4 linked regions of the Homo sapiens genome follow. The protein of the gene in region 1 purifies or fractionates together with the protein of each later gene. This does not show direct contact. Each region holds a gene or a part of one and is shown in the gene's direction. Other genes may lie near its edges. The genes, in order: PRSS50, ZYG11B, ZNG1C and TUBB1.

Region 1 (3,290 bases):
AGCTGGAAGGAGTAGAATTGCCTCCTCCAGGGCACAGCATGGGGTGAAAGAGTCCATGCTATGGACTGAGAGTAGAGTTTGGAACCAGAGAAAACTGGGTCCGCATCCCTTCCACTGCCTCCTAGCTATGCAGCCCTGAGTGGTTCATTGGGCTTCTCTGAGCCTCAGTTTCCCCCTCCATAAAATGAAGGGTCTTGAGGACTGGACCACACAGTGAGTGTGCAGGGCCCTGTTCATGTCTGTGGTGAGGAGTAGGCTCAGGGGGCTTGAAGCGGGTGGGTGGCCCCTCCTGGATCTTCTGGGAGGGCAGCAGAGTGGGGGAAGGCCCAGGCTGGAGGCTGGGGCAGGGGGCCTGGAGCTGATCATGGCCTCCCCTCACGGCCCCCCTAGGCGTGATGTTATCTACTCAGTGAGGGTGGGGAGTCCGTGGATTGACCAGATGACGCAGACCGCCTCCGATGTCCCGGTGCTCCAGGTCATCATGCATAGCAGGTACCGGGCCCAGCGGTTCTGGTCCTGGGTGGGCCAGGCCAACGACATCGGCCTCCTCAAGCTCAAGCAGGAACTCAAGTACAGCAATTACGTGCGGCCCATCTGCCTGCCTGGCACGGACTATGTGTTGAAGGACCATTCCCGCTGCACTGTGACGGGCTGGGGACTTTCCAAGGCTGACGGTGAGTCAAAGCCTCTGCAGACCAGGGCGGGTGCTGTGAGAAAGGACGTGGGTGCAGGCCAGGGTGCCACCACAGATGGATGTTTCTGAGGCACCTTCCCCAGGGAGCCTGCCGCTCCCGGGACCTTCCTGCCAGGCTCTCATCTCTGAGGTCTCCTTCCCCTTGAGGATCTCGTGGGGAACACCTCACTGCTGCTCCAGCCTCAGGGGACCCTGATTGCCTTTGAATCCTGAGTCAGGCCAGGGCATGTAAACAGAACTTCCTTGAAGGCAGAGAGGCACAGAGTAATACCTCACAGTCCACACCCACTGCCCAGGCATCGGCAGCTTGCAGCAGAGCACCTGAGGTCGGGGGAGCAGTCTTCTGTGTTGTAAAATGCTGCCCAGAAGGCCCACATGGCTGGCTAGGGGCCGTCTGCAGCTGGAGCTCATGGTTTCCCCTCCCCTCAGTGGGCCTCAACTCCTGGTCGTCCCAATTCAGGAGCAAGGCCCAGAGAGCAGGTGTGTTCTCTCAGGAACATCCAGGGGACCCTAGAACTGTCTACTTCCTTCAGGGGGTCCCCAGCCCATAAGAGAGATGCCCTTCCCTGTGGCCTCAAGGAACCAACTTACTCTCAAAACAGCTCAAGGGGGCTTCAGCCCATGTGGGAGGACCTGGGAGTGACTTTGTCATCCCTGCTGTGGCCTGTCTCCTGTCTCCCAGGAGCTTAGGCCAGGGACAGGGACACACTACTCAGGGAGGCAGAAGGAAGAAGCAGTGCCTGGCCTCCATGGAGGGGTCTGGGAAGGCTCAGCAGGGAAGAGGCCTGTGGGAGAAGGGATGCTTGAAGAGAAGGAAGGCTTGGCAGGCCCTCAGGAGGGAAGGAGTGGCAAAAGCCAAGAGGCCGAGTGTGGTGGAGGTGGTGTCAAGGGCCCCAGTGGCCTGGGCACTGCAGGAAGCGAGAGCAGGCCCGGCAAGGCTGGGTTGGGGGTACTCTGCTCCGGGGGCTCTGTGTTGAGGGCCCTAGATGGGTATGGGCTAGAACGAGGGCAGAGGTGTGTGGCTAAAGCAGAAAAGGTGGGACGTGGGGAACAGTGGAGAGAGGACGAGTGAGGCTGGCGGTAGTGGGCAGCGGTGAGTGGCTGCGCCTAAATGGGGCCCTGTCCCACAGGCATGTGGCCTCAGTTCCGGACCATTCAGGAGAAGGAAGTCATCATCCTGAACAACAAAGAGTGTGACAATTTCTACCACAACTTCACCAAAATCCCCACTCTGGTTCAGATCATCAAGTCCCAGATGATGTGTGCGGAGGACACCCACAGGGAGAAGTTCTGCTATGTGAGCGGCCTCTCCTCGCTCACTCCCCTTCAGGGGCACCTGGGGGAGAGGCATCTGGGGAGGGAGAGCGGAACGGTGGAGGTTGGGTAGGGGAAGGGAAGGGGGTGGGCAGGACTCTGGGATATGGGGATGGAGGATGTCGGGGGAGACTGGGAGGAAACAGATGGGGGCTGGGAATGGGGATGGCTGTTGGAGGTGAGAGGAGTGGGGGGTCCGTGGGGAGATGGAGGGTGGGTGTTAAGAGGTGGGGGATGAAACCCTTTGAGGAAGAGCTCCTGGGTCTGGAGCACTTCTCACCTATGTTGGCACTGGGGGACTGTGGAGGTGTGGTGTGAGGACATCCCGCCTGTCCTGGAGCTGGGTCGTCTCTGGCCTTGCCTGGCCTCCCTGACCCTTACTCCCCCAACCCTTCCCACAGGAGCTAACTGGAGAGCCCTTGGTCTGCTCCATGGAGGGCACGTGGTACCTGGTGGGATTGGTGAGCTGGGGTGCAGGCTGCCAGAAGAGCGAGGCCCCACCCATCTACCTACAGGTCTCCTCCTACCAACACTGGATCTGGGACTGCCTCAACGGGCAGGCCCTGGCCCTGCCAGCCCCATCCAGGACCCTGCTCCTGGCACTCCCACTGCCCCTCAGCCTCCTTGCTGCCCTCTGACTCTGTGTGCCCTCCCTCACTTGTGGGCCCCCCTTGCCTCCGTGCCCAGGTTGCTGTGGGTGCAGCTGTCACAGCCCTGAGAGTCAGGGTGGAGATGAGGTGCTCAATTAAACATTACTGTTTTCCATGCCTCCTTCTTCCCCGGCCTCAGAGGCCCCACGTTTCCTGGGCCTGCTCTGTTGGGAGTCCACAGGTGAACCAGATGAGGGTGAAGTGGGGAACTCCAGGCAGTTTACACTGAAAATTGCAGAGCCTCCAGGATCTCCCCCATTCAAAGGTTCGGGGTGGCTCCCGCAGAAGGTGGAGGGGGTGTGAAGGGGTGATATTAGGGTCAGATGATCGAGGGGCCTGGAACATACCGCCCAGGCTGAAGCTGGGGCTGCCAGGACCCAGCTGGGGTGCAGCTGTCTGGGCTGGAAAGTGGGTGCTCTTTCTGTGATAACTGTGGGAGTCGGGCTTTCCTTGACTTTGGCTGATTTCTGGCAAGAGGCTAGAACACAGCATTTCATTGCCCCAAAGAGCCATAGTGAACTTTGACCCTCTGTCTCTGTCTCCTGTCTGGAGACAGTGACAGACACCCACTGGAGTCAGATGTTATTCCAACCACCAGCAGCCAGGCCTGCCCATAAAAGGCTAGTGGTGGC
Region 2 (7,037 bases), on another chromosome or scaffold:
GGAGTTTGAGACTGGACTGGCCAGCGTGGTAAAACCCCACCTCTACCAAAAATACAAAAATTTAGCCAGGTGTGGTGGCTGGTGCCTATAGTCCCAGCTACCCAGGAGACTGAGGAAGGAGAATTGCTTGAACCCGGGAGGCAGAGGTTGCAGTGAGCCAAAATTGTGCCATTGGACTCCAGCCTGGGCAACACAGCAAGCTGCAGTGAGCCATGATCACACCACTGGGCATGAGCCATGATCACCCCAGCCTGGGCAACAGAATGAGACTGTCTTTAAAAAAAAAAAAAAAAAAAAAAAGGCTAATAAAATATTTCAAAAATTTAAAAATTGTATGTGCAGTATGAGTGCCATTAAGTTTTTAAAAAGCATAGTAAATGCAGCCTGGCATTATGGCTCATGCCTGTAATTCTAGTACTTTGGGAGGCTGAGGCGGGAGGATTGCTTGAGGGCAGGAGTTTGAGACCAGCCTAGGCAACATGGTAAAACCCCATCTCTACTAAAAATAAAAAAATTAGCCAGGGGTGGTGGCATGTGCCTGTATTTCCAGGCTGAGGCACAAGAATCGCTTGAACCCAGGAGGCGGAGGCTGCAGTGAGTCGAGATTGCGCCACTGTACTCTGGCCTGGGCAACAGGGCAAGACTCTGTCTAAAAAAAAAAAAAAAGCATAGGAAATGCATAAAAATATAACAACACTTACCTGTGATTTTGGGTCAAAGATAAGGTAGTTATGATTGTTTTTATTTTTTTAATACAGGTTGTACATGTCTTGAGGTTAGAAAAATCAAGCTAGCTATTTATTGATTGAATGTGTAGGCCTTGCACTGTAGACGTAACATCAGTATAGAGGTTATTTATCAAGCTGTAGCATGTTAGTGATCAATAACAAAACAGCTAAAAAAAAATGGCTCCTAGAAGTCATTTTTTTGTGGAATAATTTTCAAGTGTTTTAAGAAAAGCTATTTCTCCTGTTTTGTGTGTGTTTTTTTTTCTTTTTCAGCTTCAAGGTATTGCAGCATGCTGATTGAAGAAGGAGGATTGCAGCATTTATACAACATCAAAGATCATGAACATACTGATCCCCATGTCCAACAGATTGCTGTGGCCATTCTGGATAGCTTAGAAAAACACATTGTGCGCCATGGGAGGCCACCTCCCTGTAAAAAACAGCCCCAAGCCAGACTAAATTGATAGCCATAAGTATTGGATAGTTGAATCACAGGAATCCTTTTTGTGATTGGTCCATTTGGAATATCTTACCCTCCCTGATGTTTTGGGGGTTTCTATGACAAGAGTCATAAAATCAGTTTGGGATTGATAATGTGTAGTACTGCCCATGTGAACAGTCTCTAATTTGTCTTGTGATTTTAAACTTATGAGTCAAGAAGGGTCTCTTCCTTTATCATTGCCTTTTAGGAAATTTTCCACATCTTTCAGTGTTTGAACTTACTTGTGCTTGAGATTCTACAGTTTTATGGTAAAGTTTGCACGAACCCTTAGGCCAGACTTTTCTGATCTCAGAGTCCCTTCCAATCAATTTGCAGCTTCACATAAGCTGTTGACCTGATTTCTGACACTGCTTCAGTTGTAAATTTTATACTGCTTCTGTATAAAATGCCTTTCTTCTCTATCTGTGTATATTTTATAAGATGTCCTTCTTAGTGTGAAAGAAGGGAAATGTGGATCATCTTGTGGAAGCTAATCACTGGCAGGAGCCTGGATGGCTGGCGGAAAGATATATGAGAAAGAAAAATTATGAAGGTAGAACAGAGTGTAGGAACTGGGAATTGGTTTCATGGTATAGGTTTTAAAATGAGACAGGCTACCCTTCGGGAGTCCACCTCTCTTGAGGCGGTGAGCAGAAGCTTGTCCTCCATATTTATACCTAGAAGTGTGGACTGCTGGTTCCTGCACAGACTGCCGGTTATTCACTAGGAATATTTCCCCAAGCACCACAGTATAAAATACTACAGCACTCTGTGTTAAAGACTAACTGTCTACATCTCCATATGTTGTAGTGTTGTGAAAATGTGATTTTAAAAAATTATCGCCAGTTAAAACTGGCTATTCTTTTCCTCTATTTCAAAGTCATTTTTGTTCAGTGGAATAGAGACAGCAACATGGTGTTAACCTCTCAATTAAAATACAATTGACACCAGTAAATTTTGCCATAAAAAGTTAAAATCTCTTGTTCAAAATATGTGTATCTTCTTAATGTGTTCATGTTAGAGAAAGTGTCCCCATCTCACTGCCAAAAATGAAAGAAAATAATTAAACTCTTTAAATGATTAAATGTAATGATTCTACTCGCAGTGCATAACAGCACATATTTTTGACAGATTATTTTTTAGGCAATTACCTTTCCTTAAGGTATCTGATACAGTATAGTAAAGAATCACTTATATCAGTAATAGCACTTGAGAGATAGCAAGTCACCAAGAAACTTAATTTTCATTTAAAATTTTATTTTGTGAATAAGGTCAATCTACAATCCCAGATAACTACATTTTTTTTCATAGATGGCCAGTGTTTTCAACAGAGATTTAAAATGGAATATTAAAATTATAGTGATTATTCAGAAGCATTTTAATTTAGAAAGGAGCTGGTTTGTTAGTTCACTGATGACATTTTTTGACAAACATTTTATACCATTATCACAATAATCAGACTTGAATTTTTTTTGGAGTTCCTTCATGTGAATGAAAACTGAGTTAAAAGAAAGTAGGCATTTAGGTCTGGATGCAGTGGCTCATGCTTGTAATCCCAGCACTTTGGGAAGCTGAAGCAGGAGGATTGCTTGAGCCCAGAAGTTCAAGACTAGCCTGGGCAACATAGTGAGACTCGGTCTCTACCAAAAAAAAAAATTTTTTTTTTTTAAATTAGCTGGGTGTGGTGGCACCTGGGAAACAGAGCGAGACGCTGACTCAAATAAATATCTAAATAGATATTTAGAATCACTGAAAACCATATTAAATGCTGGGTTAATGCTGACTTAATTGGCTTAAGGAATTTTTATAGGCGTAAGATAAATTTTCACAGACTAAGTTTATTTCAGACAAAATAGAGAATTCTTTTAAAAGTTTTTTTTTTTTTTTTCCTTTTTCGAATGTTAATGTCTAAGACAAAGTTCAGAAAACGAGATGGCCTGTGGTAGTTTGGAAATTGCTAGATATGTTGACCGTTTCCAGGTCTTTTATCTAGTGTAGTTAAGGGAAAGCCTATTTAAGAAGTTTGGCTTCAAGTTTCTGTTTTATAAGACAAAAGTGCATATTTCTTTACAGGCTAATGCTAGGTTTTTGTCTTTACAAATTATTTTCAGAAATGGCTAAAAGTGTACAGAAAACAGTAAATCCCTTCTTTACTCAGAATAACTTCTTAATAGTTGAAGCATCCAAAATATGTAAAAGCAAGGGTGGGCGTAGTGGCTCTTGCCTGTAATCCCAGCATTCTGGGAGGCCGAGGCGGGCAGATCACTTGAGATCAGGAGTTCGAGACCACCCTGGCCAACGTGGTGAAACCCCGTCTCTACTAAAAATACAAAAACTAGCTGGGCATGGTGGCTTTTTTGCACGCCTATAGTCCCAGCTACTCGGGAGGCTGAGGCACGAGAATCACTTGAACCCAGGAAGTGGAGGTTGCAGTGAGCTAAGATCGTGCCACTGCACTCCAGCCTGGACAACGGAGTGAGACTCTGGGGAAAAAAAAAATTAAACTTCCTACTTTTTTTCTTTTTGTAGAGACAGAGTTTCACTCTGTCGCCCAAGCTGGAGTGCAGTGGCACAATCATACCTCACTGCAGCCTCTTGGGCTTATGTGATCTTACCCCCTCAGCCTCTGGAGTAGCTGGAACTACAGGCTAAATTTCCTACTTTGTAAACATCAGTAGTGGCCAGATACTTCTGAGTCTTAAAAGCATAATAGGCCGGGCGCGGTGGCTCACGCCTGTAATCCCAGCACTTTGGGAGGCCGAGGTGGGTGGATCACAAGGTCAGGAGTTCAAGACCAGCCTGGCCCAAATGGTGAAACCCTGTCTCTACTAAATATACAAAAATTAGCTGGGTGTGGTGGCGGGCACCTGTAATCCCAGCTACTCAGGAGGCTGAGGCAGGAGAATCGCTTGAACCTGGGAGGTGGAGGTTGTGGTGAGCCAATATCATGCCACTGCACTCCAGCCTGGGTGACAGAGTAAGACTCCGTCTCAAAAAAAAAAAAAGCATAATAATTTATTACATCCCAAATATATAAAAATTTGAGTGCCTTTGCAGTTGGGATGGTTCCTAAAATTGCGTATAGAATTAAGGCACAGAATTGTGTGTAAGGTCCTGAATCTGGCTAAAATACAGTGGATGTATGTATTGGAATTATGAGGCATAAGTAGCCAGTATCTATAGTTAGAATCTACAAGGCCTCCTTTTTGCACCTGTAGACTAGAATATAACTGTTATTGGTGCCTTTGAGTGTTATCTCTCAGTGGCTAGAGGTGCTGTTTCAAGCACAATTTAGACTAGGGTTGAACCACTCATTGTTCAAATCATTGGTGGGCTCCAATGTAAAATATCACTACATCAGTCCACAAGCAACATTAAGGAAATCTAAAGGAAATGGAATTTGACTTTTTAGAGTATAATGATGTTCTAGGGCATAATGAGGAAAATTTTTAAAAAATAGATTATAATGATACATATTGGTATCATTAAGACAACAGATTTGAGCAAATACAATTAAGGTGTCTTATTTTTTGCATCAAGTAATTATTGCTGTGGTCTTTCTACTCCACAAAATAATTTTTTCTTTTTGCAGTTGAAAATTAACTGCATTATTAACTAATTAATAAAATAAATCAAGTGGTATAAGGGATTAGTTTACCCTCAAGCCGATGACTCCATGGCTACTGATATTAGTTAGTTTAGGATTTTTAAAAAGCATATCAGACCCCCAGTTTCAGGAATTGAGTATAAATATTGCTTCTTGTCACCCTGGGACAGTAATGCCTTATAGTGGCACTAGTCACCTTAAGTAGATTACACATGGTTGAGGTGAATAAAGCTGCATGGGAATTTGCTTTCGTGATATATTTCATTTGCAAACTTCTACATAATCAAGTTTTATGTTTAAAACCATCGGTTCTATATATCTAGCTTTAGGAAGTTGCCCTTACAGGTGGGACCTTTTGTGTTAATCTGTTTTCTCCCCAGTCATCTTATTTGGCTATGTTAAAAAAAAAAAAAAAAAAAAAGCGAGAGAGAGAGATGGTGTCTCACTGTGTTGCCCAGGCTGGTCTCGAACTCCTGGCCTCAAGTGACTTTCCCACCTCAGCTTCCCAAAGTGCTGGAATCACAGGCATGAGCCACAGTGCCTGGTCTTAGCTGTGTTTTTAATTATGCCATGCATCAACATAACACCGGGCCATCTTCCTATCCCTTCCTATCCCATATGTTTAATGAAAACATATTTTATGTGCTAAATTAGGTTAATTTACCAGAGATTTAGCTTAGTGTTTTTAAACTATAGAACAATACCCCTATAGAACAATGTACAGCTGCACCCAAGGTTAAAAAGAGGTAGCAGGGAAAACAAACTTAAACTCTTTGTATATGGTGAAACCCATCCCTCTCCTGCCCTCTAATGGTATGTTTACATTATTTCGTTATTATACAATGTAGTGGTATAAACAGTATTATTAAACTGAAGGCATAAGTTAAAGGAAGTATGTTACTTTGAGCTGATGTAGGCTCTTCCACTTTTATCTGTATTTTACTTATTTGGGGACTTTGTATTGCTAGGGCTTCAGAATACTAACTTTGACACAGCTCCCAGAGAGGTTTGCAAACTTTTGGTTTCCCTCTCAAATCCATGGTAGTAGTTTCAAATGAGTTTGTGGATAATGGATGTTTAGTCCTTATCATTTGCTGTGTTTTGACAGTTTTTAATTTGCAGTATTCACTCACGAACTGTTTTATTTTAGGAATAATGCAAAACCAACCTTCGTCCGGTGATGAGAATAGCCGTATGATAAGAGAATTTGCTCATCGTGCTTTAAATGATTAACTGTTTTACCTTATTTAGTATTTCATAGACTTTGCATGATATGGTACACTCCTAATTATGCATTCTTTGGTTTCCAAATCTTAATCTAAGATACTTTGTTAACTGACTGGTAGCCTAAGAAAGAGACTTTTCTTCCTGTTTTTCTCTCTCCCCATTTTTTGGGGTAAGTTTTGCAAAGATCAGTGCTGCTTCTCATGACTCTAAAGTAAAGCTCTTTTGGATAGCACAGCCTAACTTTACAGCTAGACAGAATGGCCATTAAGAATATTTCCAAAATCCAAGTTTATCAAAATTATTTTGTGGGAAATCATCAATCTATTTTATTAATGTTATGTGTTTAATTTTGGACTTATTTTGGGAAAAACTGTTCAAATTGGGTCCTTTTAAGCTTATTTTAAGCAGCCTAGAAGGAAGAAGCTACTTAGCTAATGAAAGCTGAGACACTTTATTAAAAGCAGGATCTTAAGAGCATTGTTTTTCCTTAAAAACTTTATACTCTCAGATAATCTGCAACAACAAAAATTAAGAAATCCCTGACTTTTGTAGAATTCCCACTGTCAAATTCTCACTGACTTATGAGTGTGAGAGAAGTTATCTTTTGTTTGAATTCTGATAGAACAGTTTAACTCCTTTCTAAGGATATAAAAAATTCATTGGAAAGTGTGTATATTTCAAAGACTCTCAATTATCTGGACTGAAGGCACTGTTCTCACTATGGCCAGATGAATGGGAGTATTCTGTACATGAATCATGCTGTATTTTAAATCAGGACATCACTTAAGTATTAATGTTGTGTGTACAGATTTTTGTTTTGGGATTTTTTTTGCCTAAATAAATGTTATAAATTTTATGTAAAGTGTGTCTTGTCTACTTTTATTCTAGACATTTGGCTTTAAAAGTTAATATTAATGCAAACTTCAAATTCCTTAGTGATCCACTTGTAATGATTGCTTTCTGAAAAAGGCTACTTTTACTGGAGAAGTTTTTA
Region 3 (6,843 bases), on another chromosome or scaffold:
TGTATGACTTTGAGCAAGGTATTTATCTTTTCTAAGCCTCAATTTCCTCATCTATAAAATGGGCACACAAATAGTATTTACCTTGGAGAGTTAAATGGGATAATGCATTTAATGTGCTTAACACAGTGCCTATCAGATGCTTAGGGGCTCAAAACATTATTATTGTTGTTGCTGTTGTTGTTTTACCCTAAAGTAAATGAGACAAAATAGCAAAGCTAGATGAGGAGGAATTTTTAAGATACATCAGAAACTGTAATAGATTCTAAAATATTATAATTAAGAAATTTCATACTTATTTAAAAAGGCATTTTCAATTTAACAATTTAACAATTTAACCCTCTTATAAGTTAAAAAAAAAAAAAAAGCCCGGCACAGTGGCTCACGCCTGTAATCCCAGCTCTTTAGGAGGCTGAGGTGGATGGATCAGGAGGTCAGGAGTTCAAGACCAGCCTGGCTAACGTGGTGAAACCTCGTCTCTACTAAAAATACAAAAATTAGCTGGGGGTGGTGGTGCATACCTGTAATCCCAGCTACTCAGGAAGCTGAGGCAGGAGAATCGCTTGAACCCGGAGGCAGAGGTTGCAGTGAGCCAAGATCGTGCCACTGCACTCCAGCCTCGGCAACAGAGCAAGACTCCATCTCAAAAAGAAAAAAGAAATAAAAATAAAAAGTCATGCCCAGCTATTTTGGGAGAACTGAAATTACAACTCTATCTGAGAAAATAAAATGACAGGACTCCACAGAATCCATAGATAAAAACTTAACTGAAGAGGAATATGGAACAGACTAAAGGAAAAATTTTATCAAGCTGTAATCTTTATACTTGTGCCTAAGGCCAGAACTTGAAACTGCTGAAGACAGTGTTTCTCTACAAATGCACACAGGCACCCCATTTTGATGCACAGATAGGTGTTTATTTCTTTTAAGAATAGCAGCTTTATTGAGATAAATTTCACATATGATACAATTCACCAATTTAAAGTGTACAAGTCAATGGTTTTCAGTATAATCAGAGTTGTACTACCATCACCATAATCAATTTTAGAACATTTTCATCACCGCCCAAAAACCACTGTAGTCTCTCCCCAGTCCTCCACTCCTGGGAACCATTAATGTACTTTCTGTCTCTATAGATTTGCCTATTTTGGTTATTTTATATAAATGGAATCATACAACATGTGGTCTTTTGTGAATAGCTTTTTTCACTTACCATAATGTTTTCAAGATTGATTCATTTTGTAGCAGGTATCAGTCCTTTTTCCTGTTTATTGCCAAATAATTTTCCATTGTACGGATAGATCATATTTTGTTTATCCATTTGTCACATTTTGGTTGTCTATCAGTTGATAGATATTTGTGGTGCATTTAATTTTTGGCCAATGTGTAAAACTTATTTTGCTCTCATTGAGGCTACATACTGTTACAACAATGCTATTTGGTCAACTTGACTGAGCTGGCCTCATAGGTTACAGGTTGTTCATTGTTAGAGATGAGACTTTAGACCAGACTGGACAACATAGTGAGACCCTGTCTCTACCAAAAAGAAAAAGAAAAATTAGCCAGATGTAATGGCATATGACTGGAGTCCCAGCTACTTGGGAGGCTGAGATGGGAGGATCACTTGAGCCCAGGAGTTTAGGACTGCAGTGAGCTGTGATCGTGCCAATGCAATCCATGCTGGGCGACAGAGTGAGACCCTGTCTCAAAAAACAGAAAGAGGGATTTTAGTATAACATTCAGCCAGTGCCATATTGGGAACCCACAAGAATGTACTTTTAAAAATATGTCAAAGAAGATGGTGAGGGCTGTAATAGCTGCTATTCAGGCAGTAATGCAGTGCTGAAGGGACATCAAGCAAATAGTGTGATGCCTGTGGGTGCAATGTTACTCCTTCCCTTAGGTTGCCAAAAAAATCAATACTTCATAGCATTCCTGAAACGAAAAAGCTTATGAACCATTGTGTTTAGGGCGTAAGCTATCTATTTTGGGCTACCCATCACAGCTTCTCTCCTTTGGCAGAATACAGTGAACTGAACCACCACACCTAAGGTATTTGCCTTATTTCTTCCTCAGCTGGTTCATGGTTACATTGTCAAAGCTGGCAAAGCATTCAAGACCTGATTTCTCAGACCGAGTGTATGTGTGAATATAATATACTCATTTGCACAAATATAAACCCTCTGTCTTAACTGTGTTCTGCAAAAGGCGTGATAAATACTTTCAAGTTATATGTACTTATCAGTAGAACTAATGGAATACACACAGTATATTTTATGGGGAATTTCAGAGAAGGAAGGAAAAGTCAACCTTTTATTTGGCATCAGGATAGTAGTAAAACATTCTACTTGTGCATCAGATAGATTTTTATGACCTAACCTGGACAAGTAACTTAACTCTTGGTGCCTCATGTTTGAAAGAGGGATAACACTCTACAGGGTCATTCTAAGAATTACATATTGCCAAAACACATGAAAAGATTCTCAACCTTGTTAGTAATCAAGGAAATGCAAATGAAGATCACAATGAAGTCTTCTTTTGTACTCAATTGATTGGTGAAAAATGCATGCCTGATAATATTGACATACAGACCAATGAGATCTCTTATAATTTGCTGGGAAAATGTATCAATTTGTACAAACATTTTGAAAAATAATTGTGCATTTTCTTGTGAAGTAAAACATTTGAATAATCTAGGACCCAGCAATTCAACTCTTAGACACTCAAGAGGAAGTTGCACACACATATGTCAGGAAAAATGTTCATAGCAGCCCTGTTCATAAGAGCAAAACCTGGAACAATTGAGAGGAAATGAATAAATTGCCGTGTAGCCACACAATAGAATACAAGACAGCAGTGATGCTGAAAAATATAGCAAGCCTCAGGAGTTTATATATTATATGGATAATTTTATGAAGCTCAAAAACACCCAAAATTAAACAACATATTCTCTAAGTACATACGTGGGATATGTGATAAAACTAAAAAGAAAACAGGGAAGGATCAGCAATCCAGAACCAATTCATGACTGTTGTTACTATCTTATGGGGCAGGCTGTGGATTGGAAGCGGGGGCGGTGCACATAGGTACGTGTAGCTTACTGGTAATGCTTTTATGTTAGGAATGAGGTCAAAGGAGTTCACTATAAATTTATATTAGAAAGAAGGGCTATCTATGGATTAGTGATGAGAGTGTCATGCACCAGCAAATATGATTAATGAACTTAGGTTACCTGAGGTCCAAATAAATAATGAGAAAAAAGTAAATAAAAGTGATGCATGAATACTAAAAATTTGGAATTACATATATAATATGTAATAATAAAAAAAGAAAAAATTGTCACTGGTTATCCTTCAGGTATAAAAATTACAATTAAAATTGTAATGTTATAACCTTCCATTCTTTCCCCTATGAATTAAAACTTTTTTTTTTAACGAGACTAAAAAATCAAGTTGATAAAATCTATGCCCTGTGGGAACTGGTTAGGTCAGGCTACCCACTCCAGATTTCCAGCAGGCTGGCCTCAGCTCTACCTACAGCCAGTAGCTTATTAAGGCTCTAGGCGCCAGTGACACCTTCAGACAGGTGGTTAGTGCGCCCTAAGGACTCTCCGCAGCGTCGCTCAGGTTCACAGAACACGCCCAGGGGCGTGTCCAGCTGTCGTCGGGGAGAGCCCACCTCCCCGGGGGGTGTGGCTAAGGGACGAGGCAGTTCTCGTCCAGAGCCCAGGTAATCCGGGCGGGATCAGCTAGCGTCGCGATGTGATGACGTCAGGCCCCGGCCAGGCCGGGAGTGGCGTGCTGGGCGTGCGCGGCTGCGGTACGGCGTGTTGGTCCCAGCGGTTCAGCTGAGGTAGGGACGTGCTGTAGGCCGGAATGTTACCGGCTGTTGGATCTGTGGATGAGGAAGAGGATCCTGCGGAGGAGGATTGTCCTGAATTGGTTCCCATTGAGACGACGCAAAGCGAGGAGGAGGAAAAGTCTGGCCTCGGCGCCAAGATCCCAGTCACAATTATCACCGGGTATTTAGGTAACTAACCATCCCAGTCACAAAATGCCGTGAACTCTGGTGTCATGGGATTTTGCGGGCTGCCGGTGCCTCTTCTCCTGAGGCATTGGGGCCTCATGATCAAGAGCAAATGTCTTTGAGGTAGGGGCTGGGTCACTTGCTTCTCGTATGGGTTACCTCTCATCTTGGGAGTTAATGATGCCCGGTCCCCTCTGCGTTAGATTCCCATTTCTCAAGTGAGATGGAAAGTTAGCCTTTGAAACAAGGCTTTGAAGCTAAGACACGCCCCCCTAATTGTCTCTGTGACCTCTTACCAAGTTATCTTACCTTCCTGACGCTCATCTACCTCACCTGAAAATGGAAAAATACCTGTCACCTGTGAAATAGGGCCGGAACAACCTACCTATTGCCATTAAAGGATGTCCCGTCTGTAAAATGCCCGACACGTGGGGCTTTCGTCAGCAGATTCCCCTTCCCCAGGAGCCAAAGTCCTCCAGCCAGTTGGCAGGAAGTGCTCCTATCTTAAACACTTTTCTTTTGAGGTCTGTTTGTAAACCACTGCGTAGGAAGTAAGAATAAAATCTCTGTCCTCCAAGACTATTTCTCAAACTAAGAACGTTTAGAGTGTACAGGGATACTCGAAACCACAAGTTTGTGAACTTGGTAGTTTCGTGAAGGGCGGTTTATGCACTTACACTAGAAGTTTCTTACTGGAAAAGTTTGAGAAATATATTTTTAAACCTTACAGTTAAATAGAAGGGCTAGAACAAATATATGACTGTATTAGAAGTTTGGAAAAAGTTAAGAAATGTAAATAAAATAATACTGTTTCCGGGAAATAATATTCCTAGTTGTTGCTAGAGACAGGTACAGACTTGGGCCACTTCGTGACCTTTTATGTAAAAATAAGAAATAACTGCTTTTGTTTTTTTAAAAACTTTGTAGACTGTAAGTTTATTCCCGTTTTTTGCTCGGAAGTAATTTTATAAAGGAATTTATTTTTGGCGTTTCCCCACAGTTATTCAGAGGCTGCTCTACTGAGAAGATGAACAAATTTCTTGTCCAAAACAATGTATTTCAAACGTGCCCCTCGGGCCTTTCCCGTGTTGCTCACTGGTAGGTCAGTAGATCATTGGAGAAAATGATCTGAAGCTCAGGAGTGAGAATTAATACCAGCAACCTTGTTGCTGAATCTAGGGATAGTTTCACTCCTATCCCTGACCATTTTCCCTTTTTGAAACACTGTTCCTTTGGCTTCTATTACATTTTTCTTCTGATTTTTCCACCTGCTTCTCTGGCTTCTTTTTAAGGCTCCCTCCTCCTTCCCCCTTTGTCCATCTTTAGCTACACACCTGTGTAATTTCTATTTTGATGTCCTACAACTTAAAACTTAACATGTCTGAAACTTCGTCTGTTACCATCCCCCCAAATCCTGCTTCTGTGATCCCAACCATTTGGAATACTCTAAAAGCCTCCTGACTAATCTGGAGTCTTGCTGCCCTTTAATTTATTCGTTGCATGTTAGCCTTAATGATCTTTATAAATGTCAATCCGACTGCGTCACACCTTTCAGTGGCGTCCCTATGGGTTAAAATTCAAATTCCTTAACATGAATTACAAGGACCTGTAGGATCTGGATCTTGCCAACCTTTCCAGCCTGCCAAATTGGCCCCGCACAATAAACTAAGGTTACTTCAAAGGTGCCAAGTGTTTTAGCCCCTTGGAATAGGTACTTTTTTACTGTGACTCCTCTGGCTAGATGTCCCTCTTAGGTTCTCCATAGCATTTTGTGCATCTCCTATTGAATATGTCACCCTGTGACATAATTGCCTCCTTATTCACTGAATTCCCCTCCATTCCCCCCTTCCCTTAATATTTCTAAGCTCTATGAAGGCAGAGACTATCTTGTTCACTTTTTCACCAAGGCCCAGCATAAATCTGTAACGTATTAGAAACCTTTGAATGAATGAACTATGTCTTAAAGTGTTTTTTTTTTTCATAATATGGTTAAAAAGCCCTAGTAAATCTTCTCTTAGAAGATTTCTTACATTCACCCTTTCCTTTCAGTTTTCACATCACTGCCCTGTGAAACACTCATGTTCAGGGCCTCTGTCTCAGGCTTGGACTGGTTTTAAGATCTTCCTCATTGCCCTAAGTCTCTCTCTTCCATACTATACTTCATATTTTTGTGATGTTGAGCTTCCTAAAGTACTCTAAATATAAGCCTTCATCTCTTAAAAAGCTTTGAAAGGAATATGACCTAAAAGATATTAATACCCTAATACTCCGTAAAATCTTCCTAGTTGTAGGAAGATCTAGTTATATACTAGAAAACTTTATTTCAGAAGACATGTATAGCCTACATGTAAAAGTTTTTAGCAGCACTGTAATAGTAAAACACTGGAAACAAACCAAATGTCCAACAAAAAAAAAGATAAAGAAATGATATAGTCATACAATTGAACTACAATACTATGCAGTTAGGATTTTCTTTTTTTCCTCTATGAATTTTAGTGTGTACGGTTCACAAGACTTTTTTTTCTACTGGAGATTGACATATTGGGTTTCATATGCCACCTGCTGGATAAAGTTGGTATAGCTTTATGAATTTATCTTAACTGAACATTCTGTTCATTGTTGACACTACCTGGCTCTATTCCCCATTTCATAAAAACTTTTATAGATTGTTTAAAGCATACTATAAGTAGCCATATAGTCAGCCTGAAGTTGCGTCTCGTTAATGTTGAAATAAAAGGTCACTATAAATAAAAGATTGTGTGTCAATTTTAGGGAAGGTTAGGCTAGGTTGAAGAAACTGTTTCAACTTGTAGGAGTGTT
Region 4 (7,561 bases), on another chromosome or scaffold:
TTTCAGGCTCAGGGCTGGGCTGGTCCTGGTTGGGAATCTCAGTGTTGTGGGCCATAGCGTCCTCACCACACTTGCTAGGAGGAAGCTCCTGCCCTCTGGGGCAATGCTTGCTGATCTCCTCACCTAAATGCAGGCACTGCTAACCTGCCTTGGTCACAGCCCTTTGTTGGGGGGGCAGAAAACAACTTTGTCACTCATCACAGTGGCCACTGTGAATCGCTTGCTGCAGCTCAGGACGGGGGCCGTCACCTTCAGCCTGGCAAAACAGACCTTGGGGTCGTGCCGGCATCTCCAGGGGCAGTGTTCGCCTATGTCCTGCACAGGGCCCGCTTCTACCAGTCCGAGGGCAAGGCAGACTGTATTCCCCACCTCACTGCTGGCACTAAGGTGGCAATCAGAGGAGAGCTGTTTCCTCTGGGGAGCAGGTACCTTCAGAAACAAGGACAAGAGAGCTGAGACGGGACGCACGGCTTTCCAGACCTGCTGCCTTTCCTGCCACTCTGTTCTGCCCAGACATTTTAAATTGAGACAGGCCCCGATGTCCACGGCCATGTCAAGTCTGCCACACAGTAGGTGCTCCGTCTGTAGGTGTGGAATGCATCTCCCCCTCCCACCCTGCGAAGCCCACTTGAAAAATACCACCGGCAGCCACACGTTAGGGGTCAGCCCTGGCAGGCCCAGTCCTCACACCGACTTGTGACGTGGGGACTTTTATTTCATTTTTCACGTGAAAAAGTTCAGGTCTAGGGCGGAGATGGGCCCCTGGGTGGCGGAGCTGCCACTCCGTCCCTCACCCTCTCACAGCCCAGCGTCCAAAGCTCAGCACTCGCCTGGCCTGAATTAACATGGCCGGCGATACAAGAATCAAAGCAAACAGGGCTTCTCTCTTTTTCCTCCTTTTTGCCAACTGCCCCATTAACAGAAAAACCTTTTAAGCGCCCACCTGGAAACCTGGCTTTTTCCCCTCCCTAAGCAAACTAAGATGGCCAAGAGGAATGTGCTGCAGTGCGGAGGGTGGGCGGAGGACCCCAGCAGCCTGGATCCTGCTCACATGGCAAACAGTGAACCCAGGCAGACCAGAAATGCCCCTTGGGCCCAGCCCCGTGGTCCCTGCAGCAAGGCGGTTTGTGGCCAACAGGGGCTCCTTTCAGGAGCTGGGCCACAGAAGGCCACGGCTGCCCACCGGTCACACCTTCCCGTAATAGCTCACTGCGGTTATTCCATCTATAGTCTGTCCCCAACATCCAGGTTTCTTGGAACAGTTTATATCTCCAGCCTAGACCACCTCTTATGGAATGGAGGAAAAAGGTGACCCCACCTGGAGAAGGACACACTCGTGAATAAATACATCACTGGCTTTAAGAACACAGCCCGCTCTGAGCATCACTGCTCAAACCTGCCCAGCTGTCAGTGTGCCCTTAACAAACATTTACTGAGGCCCTGCCATGGATCAGGCACTTTGGGGACTCAAAGATGAAACGACACAGGCAGCTCCCAGGCTGGCGGGAGATAAGGCATGTGTATAAGTAATTAGCAAACAGGACTGTGTGTGGGCACTGCAGGTTGAAGTGCTCTGGTCCCCAGGAGAGGAAGTGTCTCTGATGAGGGACCTGCCTGTGGGAAGATCATGGAGCTGTCTTTGATCTTCGGAGAAGTCTGGTAGGCAGGGGCCCCTGGGTGGGGAGGGAGGCTCGGGAGAGCTGGTGGGGACAGAGACAAGGGGAAAAGAGGCCAAGGCACGCCAGGAGAAAGGCTGGAAGTGAGGCAAGATGGGCTAATGTCTATGGAAACAGAATGGTCTATTCTTAATTTTAAAATGGTCTGTTTTAATTTCTGAAAAATATTGCTGGGGACCTATGAATAGGTCTGTTTTAATTTAAACAGATCATTAATAAAATGGTCTGTTTTAATTTCTGAAAAATACTGCTGAGGACCTGTGAATATCCTCCTCTTGAATTTGCACATTCTTCTCTTTACCTTTGGGCAGGGAGGAGGGGTGACTGGACCGGAAGCATCTGTGAGTCATGTGACATTCAGGTTTGAGCACAAAAAAGTTCCAAACTTAGAGAAATGTTACAAGGGTATTAATCTTGTGCTAACTTTGAAAAGAACCAGCAATTGTTACCACTTTGCCCCTTTGCTGAACTGCCCTCTCTCCGTTTATCACGTTATGTGGTTGTGGAACTGTTTCCCAGTAAGCTGCCAGCATCAAAACGACCTTGAAGCACAGTGCTTCATAATATGGGATCTCCTGGAAACAAGGACTTCCACTTAGAACCACCCTGCCATGATCAAAGTCAAGAAATGGAACACTGATACAATACTATTTTCCAGTGTACACAATCCTTATTTGAATTTTGACAATGATCCTCATACCATCCTCTATAGCAGCCCTCTTCCCTGGTCCTGGATCCAGCCCAGGATCATGGGGTGCACTGTCAGTACTCAAGGGCAGCCTGGGATCTACACACTAGACAGAGGTGAGAAGCAGTCCCAGTCCAGGCACTCTTAGGACACAGTGCTTTCTTCTTCCCCACCTCTGGGTTTCTCTTCTGGTTTATAGCTCAGGCCCTTTGGCTGTGTGTTTGAGCTCCTTTGGGAGTAAGCAGAAGCGATTTCCCCCAGACACTCCATCGTTAGGAACTTTCCTGATTGTGTTCCTGACCTCACATCCTGGGCCCCACCAGGCCTGTAGAAGGAACACAAGGTTTAGGAGTCAAGCCTGGGCTTGGGGCACAGGAAGCACAGGCCCCTCATGGACCAGGCTGGGCTCCAATGCTTCAACCAAGGTCACGGGTCTGGCGAGAGGCAGGGGAGGGAAGGACCTCCAGGGCTTCTCGCTCTGAGTTCAGTAGTCTTGCCTGTCCTGAGTCCCTGTCCTGAGAGATGGTGTCCTTGAGCTGCTCCAGAGCTAGGAGTGCTCTCTTCCTAAGTAAGCCAGAGTTCCAAGAGTGCAGGATCTGGCCACATCTACCTCCTTCATTCCCTTGTCTGCAGCGCCCAAGGTGAGCCCAGCCTATGACAGGTCCCCGTCCATAGCTGTTCAAAGAATGGGGGCAACCTCAGGGTGCCCGGCAGACGTTAAAGAGAGGCCTCAAGAGGTGGTTGCTCACCGGATGGTGGTTGTCCACATCCTCGGGGCTTCAGGAGTGAGGCCTTGCCCTGTACCTGCCCACCTGCACCTCGACAGCTCAACAGGCACAAGGCAGCGTCCACTGGCTCTCCCCTTCCGAGCCAGGGCTCTCACGCCTTCTCAGGGAGTCCCTTCCCCATCTTCCTTGGAAGCTTCCACCTTCTGTCCTCCAGGCGGTGGGGAACTGCCACCCTCCTGGGCAAGGATATGGAGCTGGTGTTTGGCCTGGATGCCCTTGCCTGGTTGGAGGTAATAAAGCCTAGGGCTGGCTTTCGACGATGATAGAAACTTGGTGGCAGGGGAGGTACTGAGGACCAGGAGACAGAACAGCTGCTTTCAAGCTGCTGAGTACCCAGCCTGCTGCCACTCCTGTACACCGCATGAGGGAATGCTTTTTTTTTTTTTTCTGACAGAGTCTTGTTTTGTCGCCCAGGCTGGAGTGCAGTGGCATGATCTCGGCTCACTACAACCTCCGCCTCTCAGGTTCAAGCGATTCTCCTGCCGCAGTCTCCCGAGTAGCTGAGACTACATGTGTGTGCCACCACACCTGACTAATATTTGTATTTTTAGTAAGAGATGGGGTTTCGCCATGTTGGCCAGGCTAGTCTTGAACTCCTGACTTCTGGTGATCTGCCCACCTTGGCCTCTCAAAGTGCTGGGATTACAGGAGTGAGCCACCACACCCGGCTCTAAGGGAATACAATTGGGAGTCCGTTTTGCTCTTGGAGAATTCAGGGTCTGGTAAAGGGACCCTATGGCAAACATTAAGACCCCAGACACCATGAGCTGAGATGGGACGACAGAGCAGGGGCTGGGAAGGGTGCTGGGGCACAGCCCAGCCCTGGCATGGATAGGGCAGGGGTCCAAGAGACCTGCAGGACACTGCAGAGTAACTTGCATACAGGGCGAGAGAGGGCATGTGGGGGAGGGCGGGCAGACAGTGCCTGATGCAGGCCATCCCGGGACCTGGGACCTGCGAGGCCCAGTTGTGGAGCCTCCTGCTGTGGCGGGGCACGGGGCTTCTGGGGACCAAAGTCTGGAAAAGGGGCCGGGAAGATGGACAGGGAAAGCCCTTGGAGGTGGTCTGGTTACCTGGGTGAGCTAGGAGCCACAGTCATCATACCACGGTCACTAGGGCCAGCATGGTCACCTAGAAGCCTGCAAACAGTGCCAGCCTCCAGGCCCTGTGCCCCGAGGTGGCCTTTAATCTTGCACTCACTCTCTAGGAAATGATGGGGCAGTATTCTGTGTTGAGGGAGGAAAAACACTCCCTTCCAAAAGCATGACAGGCAGAAAGCAGAGAAGGGCCAGGACTGGCTGAGGGCGGGGAGCTGGGCCTCTGGGGTGGACACACCCTTGGTCACATTGTGAGGGTAGCTTGGTTGGCCAGTCCCACCACTGCAGTGACCACAGTTGTGTTGGGCTCACACCAGTGAACCGAAGCTCTGGATTCTGAGAGTCTGAGGATTCCGTGAAGATCTCAGACTTGGGCTCAGAGCAAGGATGCGTGAAATTGTCCATATTCAGATTGGCCAGTGTGGCAACCAGATCGGAGCCAAGGTAAGTAATGTCTGGTTACTAATCCTAGCTTTACCACAGTCCATAGAGGCGGACAACCAAAAAAATACCCTAAGTTAGCAGGGAAGACAATAAGTCTAGCAGATTTAATGTACTTGCTAAATATCAGACAATGCCTTTGGGCTTTAATTCTTAAAAAAAAATTTCACATGGGAAAAGAAGGAAACAATCTTTAACTAAAGAGCTACAACACACATTAAGTGCTTAGAGTGTTAATTTAATTAATGTTAATTTTATCCATAGATACATATGTACAATACATGCCGACCATTATATTACATAATACGTTTATCATCTTTTTCTTTGCCCACTCTGTTGCCCAGGCTGGAGTAGAGTGGCAGAATCATGGCTCACTATAGCCTCAACCTCCTGGGCTCAAGCTATTCTCCTGCCTCAGCCTCCTGAGTAGCTGGGATTACAGGCATGCACCACTATGCCTGGCTAATTTTTAAATTTTTTTTTGAGAGACAGGGATCTCACTTTGTTGCTCAGGCTGGTCTTGAACTCATGGGCTCAAGTGATCCTTCTGCCTCAGGCTTCCAAAGTGGTGAGATGACAGGTGTAGGCCACCGTGCCTGGCACTTTTATCATCTTTTATTTTTTTGAGATGGAGTGTCACTCTTGTTGCCCACGCTGGAGTGCAATGGCGCAATCTTGGCTCACTGCAACCTCCACCTCCTGGGTTCAAGTGATTCTCCTGCCTCAGCCTCCCCAGTAGCTGGGATTACAGGCATGCGCCACCACGTCTGGCTAATTTTGTATTTTTAGTAGAGATGGGGTTTCACCATGTTGGTCAGGCTGGTCTCGAACTCCTGACCTCAGGTGATGTGCCCGCCTGGGCCTCCCGAAGTGCTGGGATTATAGGCGTGAGCCACTGTACCTGGCCCACTTTTATCTTAACAATGAACTTTTCATATCTAAAAACAGTAATTTGTCTCAAAACAGCTTTTTGAAGTTTTTTGAGAAACTTTCTGTACCCTGTCACTATGGTGTCTTTCCCCTCCCCTCTCATGTTTATTGTAACGCTTAAAAAAAATCAATTACTGTTTTATTAGTATGCAATTGAAAATTTAAGAAATTTAATTGAAAATAAAAGTTTTTTGTGTACAGTAACATAATTAATTAAAATACACTGTCTGGAATATAAATGAGTTTTTCTTTCCCTTGCCCCCCTGCTTAAAAATTTCCCCCAAGTACGTAACTTAATTGGCCAACCCCAAGAACACAGATGCCCGAACCCACAATCTCCAATCTTGATTTTAAGATGACCAATTGCACCGTGCAAAATTTATCGTGTTCTCTTTGCTGCTGTGAAATTACTTTTACTAATATGAGATGCATTAAAAGTGAGGTTTTGAAACACCTACATTCATCATCCATCAATGACACTTGGGTTGTTTCTGCCTTTTGGCTACTGTGAGTAATGCTGCCAGGAAACAACTAAGGCTTTTAAATGCAGGCGTTTTAAACCGGGGGCAAGGAACATTACTGCTTGAAAAGAAGTCACCATTCCTCCATGCCTCAGGGGTAAGACATTCATAACTCACACACAGAGAAGTGGGAGGCAGGAGCCCTGCTGCTCTGAAGCTGGAAGATAATACGGAAAGGGGCCCTCAAGAGAAAGTGTTAGGTTTAGATAGGGTTTTAGCTCTCACTCTGGAATCGTATGGTCTAGCGTTGAGAGTCCTGGCTGACTCATCATTTAGAGATATAAGAACTTTAAGACACATTTAATTTGGGGTATCTTAGAACTTGAATTTATTTATTCTTCCACTCCCTGAACAGTGCTGGCAGTTTACCATGAACTGCCTTGTTATTAAGACCATGGCCAGAGCAGCACTGTCATTTAGAAGATATGGCTGGGGTTTTTAACATACCCTTGGGGATTTTAATATATGTGAATACATTTTCATTGCATTTTAATATGTGCCTTTCAGGGTGATCAAAAGGAGTCTTCCCAGTAACTGTTTCCATATTAAGAGCTTGGCACATATCTATATTAATAAGTACTGTGTATGTGACTGGAAGTGCAGTATGTTTCAAATAGTTACCAGAGGACAACTATGTGTAATTGTGAGTTGTATGTATACCTGACAATCAAAAATGCACATTACTGGCCGGGCACAGTGGCTCACGCCTGTGATCCTAGCACTTTGGGAGGCCGAGGCAGGTGCATCACCTGAGGTCAGGAGTTTGAGACCAGCCTGGCTAACATGGCAAAACCCTGTCTCTACTAAAAATGCAAAAATTAGCTGGGCATGGTGGTGGACGCCTGTAATCCCAGCTACTTGAGAGGCTGAGGCAGGAGAATTGCTTGAACCCAGGAGGTGGAAGTTGCAGTGAGCCAAGATTGTGCTACGGCACTCCAGCCTAGGTGACAAGAGTGAAACTCTGTCTCAAAATAAATAAATAAACAAACAAACAAACAAACATAAAAAAATAAAAAAAAGAAAGAAAGGCCGGGTGCTGTGGCTCATGCCTGTAATTCCAGTACTTTGGAAGGCCAAGGAGGGTGGATCACAAGGTCAAGAGATAGAGACCATCCTGGCCAACATGGTGAAACCCCGTGTCTACTAAAAATATAAAAATTAGTTGGGCGTGGTGGTGCGTGCCTGTAGTCCCAGCTACTCAGGAGGCTGAGGCAGGAGAATCGCTTGAACCCAGGAGGCGGAGGTTGCAGTGAGCCGAGATCACGCCACTGCACAGATAAGACTCCATCAAAAAAAAAAAAAAAAAAGGCGCTAATTACTTAAAATCATGCACAGAGGTCCAAGTTATGGGCTGTTTGGAAAAGTTCATGAAAAGAAATCCCCAAAGTGAAATGAGTTATTACTGTGAAATCAGATAAGA

What was found.
Region 2: the proteins of PRSS50 (region 1) and ZYG11B purify together in Homo sapiens (affinity purification with mass spectrometry; 3 studies listed by BioGRID and IntAct, with this or other methods). This does not show direct contact.
Region 3: the proteins of PRSS50 (region 1) and ZNG1C purify together in Homo sapiens (affinity purification with mass spectrometry; 3 studies listed by BioGRID and IntAct, with this or other methods). This does not show direct contact.
Region 4: the proteins of PRSS50 (region 1) and TUBB1 purify together in Homo sapiens (affinity purification with mass spectrometry; 3 studies listed by BioGRID and IntAct, with this or other methods). This does not show direct contact.

What each region holds. Positions count from the first base shown.
Region 1 is NC_000003.12:46,711,602-46,714,891, reverse strand, and holds the end of PRSS50 (probable threonine protease PRSS50 precursor), read left to right. Parts: intron 1-390; coding exon 391-674; intron 675-1,824; coding exon 1,825-1,991; intron 1,992-2,409; coding exon 2,410-2,646; 3' UTR 2,647-2,775; downstream 2,776-3,290. UniProt on the Homo sapiens protein: May be involved in proteolysis through its threonine endopeptidase activity.
Region 2 is NC_000001.11:52,820,438-52,827,474, forward strand, and holds the end of ZYG11B (protein zyg-11 homolog B), read left to right. Parts: intron 1-1,001; coding exon 1,002-1,192; 3' UTR 1,193-6,899; downstream 6,900-7,037. UniProt on the Homo sapiens protein: Serves as substrate adapter subunit in the E3 ubiquitin ligase complex ZYG11B-CUL2-Elongin BC. Acts to target substrates bearing N-terminal degrons for proteasomal degradation with the first four residues of substrates being the key recognition elements.
Region 3 is NC_000009.12:68,238,160-68,245,002, forward strand, and holds the start of ZNG1C (zinc-regulated GTPase metalloprotein activator 1C), read left to right. Parts: upstream 1-3,823; 5' UTR 3,824-3,872; coding exon 3,873-4,026; intron 4,027-6,843.
Region 4 is NC_000020.11:59,014,887-59,022,447, forward strand, and holds the start of TUBB1 (tubulin beta-1 chain), read left to right. Parts: upstream 1-4,542; 5' UTR 4,543-4,636; coding exon 4,637-4,693; intron 4,694-7,561. UniProt on the Homo sapiens protein: Tubulin is the major constituent of microtubules, a cylinder consisting of laterally associated linear protofilaments composed of alpha- and beta-tubulin heterodimers.